Homo sapiens: one gene and its partner. The protein of the gene in region 1 purifies or fractionates together with the protein of each later gene. This does not show direct contact. Each region holds a gene or a part of one and is shown on either strand. Other genes may lie near its edges.

The links. Proteins that work in one complex are often made in the same cells at the same time.
Region 2: the proteins of TRPC4 (region 1) and MX1 purify together in Homo sapiens (co-immunoprecipitation; one study listed by IntAct). This does not show direct contact.

What each region holds. Positions count from the first base shown.
Region 1 is NC_000013.11:37,863,238-37,866,892, forward strand, and holds part of TRPC4 (short transient receptor potential channel 4), read right to left. Parts: intron 1-3,655. UniProt on the Homo sapiens protein: Forms a receptor-activated non-selective calcium permeant cation channel. Acts as a cell-cell contact-dependent endothelial calcium entry channel.
Region 2 is NC_000021.9:41,439,602-41,443,256, reverse strand, and holds part of MX1 (interferon-induced GTP-binding protein Mx1), read right to left. Parts: intron 3,564-3,655; coding exon 3,409-3,563; intron 2,371-3,408; coding exon 2,232-2,370; intron 1,542-2,231; coding exon 1,343-1,541; intron 1-1,342.

The sequences.
Region 1 (3,655 bases):
ACTTTTAAATAAGATGATCTTCCAAGTCATTCATTGCAAATCTAACCATTTTATAGGGACACTGACATATTCAAAAACAAATACTGTGGTCCTTTATGGGTTACTCTATACTATTTGATAATAATTTGTGTCTCACACTCAAGCAGTCTCCCACTCTTTATTACTTGTTATTTACTGTTATTACATATATGTTTGTGTGTTTACACATATATACTTATATGTATGTTGTATACACATATATATTATATTCCTGTACATATTGGGCTCTAGATAAAATTAAAGAAGACCCAACTCTGCTTGTCAAACTGCAACTACCACAAAAGAGCATTCATTTAAAGTGTGACCTCAGTGTGATTCAGGGCATGCAGCTTCACTTTACCTTAGAATGAAAGGGATCTTTACATAAAAAGAAACTCATGCTGTCATAAATGATGGAGATGATTGTACATAAATCATGATAGATTCTCTGTTCTTCACTCCATGTACACTATGCCTGTCCTCTCATCCCTCCATTGTGTTTTTGGAGATTCATATTGGTGTATGATCAGCTACTTGAATGAACAGTGTGTTAAAGAGGTTGAGCATAGCAGCTGATGACAGACCAATTCAATCATCTATGCATTCATTTATTTCACTCATCTATTCAAAAAGCACATAGTCAGCACTATTATACTAATTCTGTGAAAATAAAAATTACAATGTGTTATGAACTATGATCCCGGTATGCAAATTGTGTTACTTCTCCACTATCATTTAGAGATGAAATGCATTAAAAATGTGGCAGAGTATCTGAACACTTTTCATAATCTGATTTGTAAAAACTCTATTGTCAATGAAGTAGAATGAAAATAATTTAAAACAAATCCCTCATGCCACCCACAATGGAACATCATGTATTGTCAAGTCTTTGAAATGCACTCTCAACTTACTTTCCAAATATCACTCCAAAGAAGTCTCTGGCTTTCTTTAGTTCAGTAAGCATTCCTGAGAAACACTTGTATCTGTCCTCTTTCAACTCTAACTACTCCTCTCATAGTGTAATGGAACAAAAGCCCTCCTTTAAGAATTCTGGCACAGTACCACTTAAACTGAAACACATTAATAACTGGTTATATAAATCCTATAAAAATGAGCATTATAGAGTAAGTAGCTGACTGAAAGTTAAGTTTATTGAATAATGGTGGGTAAATTATTTTTGTAACATAAGAAATAATATGGTACTCAATATATTGTATAAGTGCAACATTATCACAATTGGCATCATTATATAAAAATATGCTAAAAGTTTAGCCAAGTACAATATTATGAAAGTATAAAATACATTAATTATGTCAATTATGAAGCATAGTATTTATGGCACTCTAATTCAGTTACAAACTCACACAGTTTTGAAAATCCTCCGGTTTTCTTTAAAAAGTTTACTGTCTAGATCTGGAGACAGATCTTTGCCAGCCTGCAAGACAGAATATAACAAGCTCTTTGCTTGTATTTATACTTGGGACATCTGGAGAAATGAAGGAAACTTTCAAGGATACGGTCATATTGGATTTAACTAGGCACAAACTAGGCACTAACTAGGCACTAACTAGGCTTTAGTGCCTGCAGAATATTTTTACAGAAACAAAAAGGTAGAAGTTATTCTAGACAGAGGGAGCTTTGCCAGGAAATGCAACAAAAATGAAAAGCTTACGCATGTGCCATTCATCTATTGATTCAATTATTCATTTACTAATATTCAACAAATATCTACTGAATGGATAAGATTTTAGTGATAACTTTTGTAATGGTAGTACATATATTCAAAGAAAGTATTCCTTCAACCTCAATGTCAATAGGTTTTGGACACAATCCTGTCAGCGCAAATGCATATATATGTTTAGTAAATATCATGACAAATTCAGCTAATCGATGTCTTTTGGGATGCATGAATGAGAGCTCCTCTCAAATACCAAGGGACATTAAAATAATTGGAAAATTAAAATTTCAGGGAAAACTAAAACAAATACACTTGTCTAGAAATTTTACATAACATTGATAAGATGTAGTATAAACCTAACATGGCCTAGCATGACCTTTTTTTTAATAAAGACATTTTATTACCAGCTTACAGATGGTCAAAAGGTTAGCATGATAACTTTTTATTTATAAATTATAAGCTCATGAGTATTTCTAAAAAATTATAATCTTGAACTTTGTTCATAAAAACAAACTTTTTTTTTCTTTTTACATGTATTAGATTTATATTTAAGAATAAGAAAGGAAGTCATTTTGAGATCATCCTGCTCAAGATAAGTAGCTTATCTCTTGCTCTGCTTCAAAACTGATGGAACTTTAACAGACTATTGTTTCAAATTCTATCCCCATGATGGGGACAGTTGTTTATATTCCAATGTTATAATATTTTTAAAATTCAAGAAACAAATAGCTGAAAAAATGAATTTATGAAACTTGTTAAAAGATTATTGATTGTATTTTAGAAACCACAGGAATTAAGTAAAAAGAGTGTAGTCTTTACCATCAGGTAGACGTAGTACCTGATAGTAAAATTTGATATACTTCAAATCCTGCCTTCCCACAAAGCAATTTTGTGATTTTCATAAATTTCATCTTTCTCAGGTTGTTAAAATGTGATAATACTTCAGTTTCAAGGTAGATGTTAAGATAACAATGAAAAATAGCTTTCTTTTTCAAAGTTTCTCACATAGTGCCAAGTGTACATTAAATTCTCATAAATATTGGCCCATTTTCCCTCTTTTCTTTTTTCACAATAGGTCCTGTTTCAGGTAAATTTGAACTCTTGATAGTATTTGCTTGAAGTAATTTTTCAACATATTTCAAAATCTAACAGCAAACCACAGACAGAATATAATTAATGAATATCTGATTCATTTAATTTCACTGTCATTTCTCAAAAAGAATGCAGTGTGCTAGATAAAGCTATCAAGGCATATTTTTAAATTAATGTTTTAATTAACATTTCTAATTTTATATGTAACACTGTGTCCATGTGTCACTTAGTGTCTCTCAAGAAGTCATTATTCTATGACACTGCTATATTTTTAAAAAGAGAGATAAAACATACACTAATATTAATAGGATATTACATACAGTTTAGTTACAATAGTAGATCAAGTTCTGAAACTATTTCTTTCTTATTCTATTAAAATTAAACAACTTTCAGGAGGGTCACTTATATTTTTTAAACATTTAAATACAGCACTTAATTTGCTAAATAGTTCATGAAACCACAAGGTTTTGAATTAATACATTTTCAATGCGCATGCCTTTAATTTTCAGTTTCCCAAACAAATGGTGTCTTTCCCTAAATGCATTTTTTGCATCATAAAGTTATTTTGGTAATACTAATGTTCTCAAAAATTAGGTCTATATTTGTGCTGATTAAAAAGACACAGCCATGATATTATATCCCTGATCAAAATATTCTCAAATCTCTTAAAATATTGCGGGGTCAATGCCTCTGGAAGGGTGAGAAATAGAAAACATGAGTAGTGAGATAGTTCTAAATCAACTCTTCATTATAACTAGATAGAAACAAATTCCCAATTAAATTTGGGTTGAGTCGAACCAGTTTTAATGTTTATTTTTTGTGGGGGGGGGCGGGTATAGGGTATAAATTAGGTGAAAAGGCAAAGTT
Region 2 (3,655 bases), on another chromosome or scaffold:
GAGTTATTACAGGGTTTCCCACATTTTATAGGACATTTTAGGATAAAGGCAGCAGTGAAGCATGAGTTTCTGTGCCTTTTTGTGAGTATACTCATACCTAAGCTTCAGTTTCTCTGTCAATTTTTCTAAATTGTGGTAAACTACATATAAAATTGACCATTTAACCATCTTTAAGAGTACACTTGAGTGGCATTAAGTACATTCACACTATTATGCAACCATCACCACTGTCTGTCTTCAGAACTTTTCATATTCCCAAACTGAAACAATGGCCCCATTAAACACTACCTGCCCATTCTCTCTCTCCCAGCCCCTGGTGCCCATCATTCTTTCTGTCTCTATGAATCTGACTACTCCAGGGACCTCAGCTAAGTGGAATCAGACAGTATCCGTCCTCTTACGACTGGGTTCTTTCACTTAGTAGAATGTTCCCAAGCTTCATCCATGTTGTAGCATGTGTCAGAATGTCTTTCCTTTCTAAGGCTGAAAGTATTCCATGTTTTTGTACAGACCACATTGCTTTCTGCATCCATCCATCAATGGACACTGAATCATCTCATCTTCTGGCAATTGTGAATGTGCAGAACAGGATGTAAGTTTCCATTTGATATTCCTGGAATTCTGAGTAATGGCTCTCTGTAGGCTTCTGGGAGAACTGAATGTAAGAATGTTTACAACTCTACATAGTCTCATCATTTTAAATCTTACCAATTTGTCAGTCTTTTCCTTTTAAAAAATGTCACTTTTGGTAGGAGGGATAGAAAAATCTTATAAACTATTCACCTACCTTTCTTCTGAGATGCTTATTGCTTCCTCTTAATATTTAACTTTAAACTTTAACTATTTTGGTATAATGAGATAAGTAAGGGCAGTATTTTAGTTTTTTCCCAAATATTAATTATCCTAACACCACTAATAGATACTCAAGCTGATATAGTCCACTATTTGATTTGAAATGCTGCATTTATCATGTGTCAAATATATATATCTAGGTCTATTTCTGGGCTTTCTACTTTTTTCCTATTCTCTTCTATTTATGTTTTTATAAAATATGGTTCCAGCACCATGCTACGTAAATTATTGTACATTGTTCTCTCCCTATTTTGATTGGTTTTTAGTTTTTTTTTTCTTGGCAGTATTTTGTAATCCCCTTCCTATTCTTCTAGGTGAATTCCATAGTCCTTGTTGGGGAACAAGCATAGTCACACACACACGCGCACACACACACACGCACACACACACACACACACTCCACACATCTGTGGGACGGCTGCCACTGTCCCCTGGAAGGCCTGACATCCTGGGCTTGGACTGATCCATGATGAAACCCAGGCAAGCGCACCTGAAATATGGGTGGTTCTCAAAGAAGATCTTCTCTCTCTGCAGGGCTTCGGACAGGCTCAGCTGGTCCTGGATCTCCTGCTGGCCCCGGCACTTGACAATCATGTAACCCTTCTTCAGGTGGAACACGAGGTTCCGCACCACGTCCACAACCTTGTCTTCAGTTCCTTTGTCCACCAGATCAGGCTTCGTCAAGATTCCTGCGAGCCAGATGTATTTGGGGAGAGAACGTGCTCAGTCACGAGGCAGAGGTGAACGAACAACTGCTCACGCCCCCGGCCTCCCAGGGTTTCCTCCCATCCTTGCTTGAGGACAGGCCATAGCCCCTGCAGAACCATGGGGGCAGTGGAGCCCCGCTCCAGAAAAGAACTCCACGACAAGCCGCGTGAAGGCAGGGATGCCTCCCAGAACAGCATGTGGCTCTCCCCAAGCTCCTTCACCCGGGTCCACTGTAGAACACGCCACGTTTTGTTTATCCCTTGAGTTATGGACATCCCATCTCAAATGCATTCTTAATGAGTACCATGTGCCTCCTGAGTTTGACCTGCTTCCGAGCCCACTGTGCCTTTCTGAGCAAGTAGATAAGGCTTACAAGGCAACCTAGCCAGTGAGAGTCAAAAGCAGCTCATTTCACTTGGCCTTGGTGGGCACCAAACCTGCTCCCTTAGCAGGTCTTAGTGGAGGCAGGTCCCCACTGAGCAAAGCCCATGGAGACTGGAGGGACGCTTGCCCACTGGCAGACCACCGAGCACAGGCGGGCTCCCCCATTCTCACCGAGCACAGGCGGGCTCCCCCATTCTCACCGAGCACAGGTGGGCTCCCCCATTCTCACCGAGCACAGGCGGGCTCCCCCATTCTCACTGAGCACAGTGGGGCTCCCCCACTCTCACCGATGGTCCTGTCTCCCTCGGGGTCCACCTCCTGGGCCATGCTGAGAGCCTCTGTGGTGGCGATGTCCACATTACTGGGGACCACCACCAGGCTGATTGTCTCCTGCCTCTGGATGTACTTCTTGATGAGTGTCTTGATCTGTAAGGAAATGAGAGGAGGTGACTCGTGAGTATGGCAAAGGCAAGTGAGAGGTGAGACAAGTCCTGACCTTGCACTTGCTTTAGGCCCTAAGAGTCCCAGGGGTATTTCCCCCAAAAGAAGTAACTTTGGAGAAATGAACCCACAAACACAACCCTGGAGGTACCAAGCTGGAATTATGAGAAAATAAATTATCTGTGGCAGAAGCAGAGCTATAGGCTCAGGGAAAACCATGAAGTTTCAGATAATTAACCCCTAAGACCTCAGATCTGATGGTCACAATGAAAAATGGTGGCCAAAAAACCCCACTTCACCCCTAAATCTTTAATCTGTAAAGTGAGATTCACTGATACTAAAATATCATTATACCTATTTCTTTCTTGCTTGTTTTGTTTTGTTTTTTGTTTTGAGACAGATTCTTGCTCTGTTGCCCAGGCTGGAGTGCAGTGGCACAATCACGGCTCATCACAGCCTCCCTGGTTCAAGCAATCCTCCTAGTAGCTGACAGGTGCACGCCACCATACCTGGCTAATTTTTTAACCTTTCTTTTATAGAGAAGGGGGTCTCACTATGTTGCTCAGGTTTCTGTCAAACTCTTGGGCTCAAGGAATCCTCCTGCCTCAGCCTCCCAAAGTGCTGGGATTATAGGACTGAGCCACTGTGTGTGGCCCATTATACTTATTTTTAATGCTCTCTTCCCACATAAGACCCCTTCCTAATACACAGCACTTTAGATATGCTGCAAAATGTATATAACCAAAAACAAGTCATTGCATAAAACATAAAACAAATACACAGAACACATTTCCAACTGTGCCCACTGGCCTCACTTTCTCCAAAGAAGCTTCCATTCAACTTGACAGAACAGACTGTGACCAACGGGCTCTCTAAATTCCCCACTCACACCTCCAAATACTAACTCCAAAACTCAGCTCTGGACTCACGGTTACTCTAATACAGTACCCTCTTTCTCCTCCCACCCCTCCACTCCCCCATCCCCACGCCACGGCCAAGGTCAGAATGGGTCTGAAGTCTGACCTTATACCCAATGTCAGCAGGCTGATTGCCCACAGCCACTCTGGTTATGCCAGGAAGGTCTATTAGAGTCAGATCCGGGACATCTCGGGAGCTGATCTCCAGGGTGATTAGCTCATGACTGATTCCCATTCCTTCCCCGGCGATGGCATTCTGGGCTAGAAAAGAGACAGGGAAAATCAAACCCAAACAGAGCTTAGGATAAACGGATCTCATGATGGTGAATACTCTGAAAGCATCTTCTCCTCTC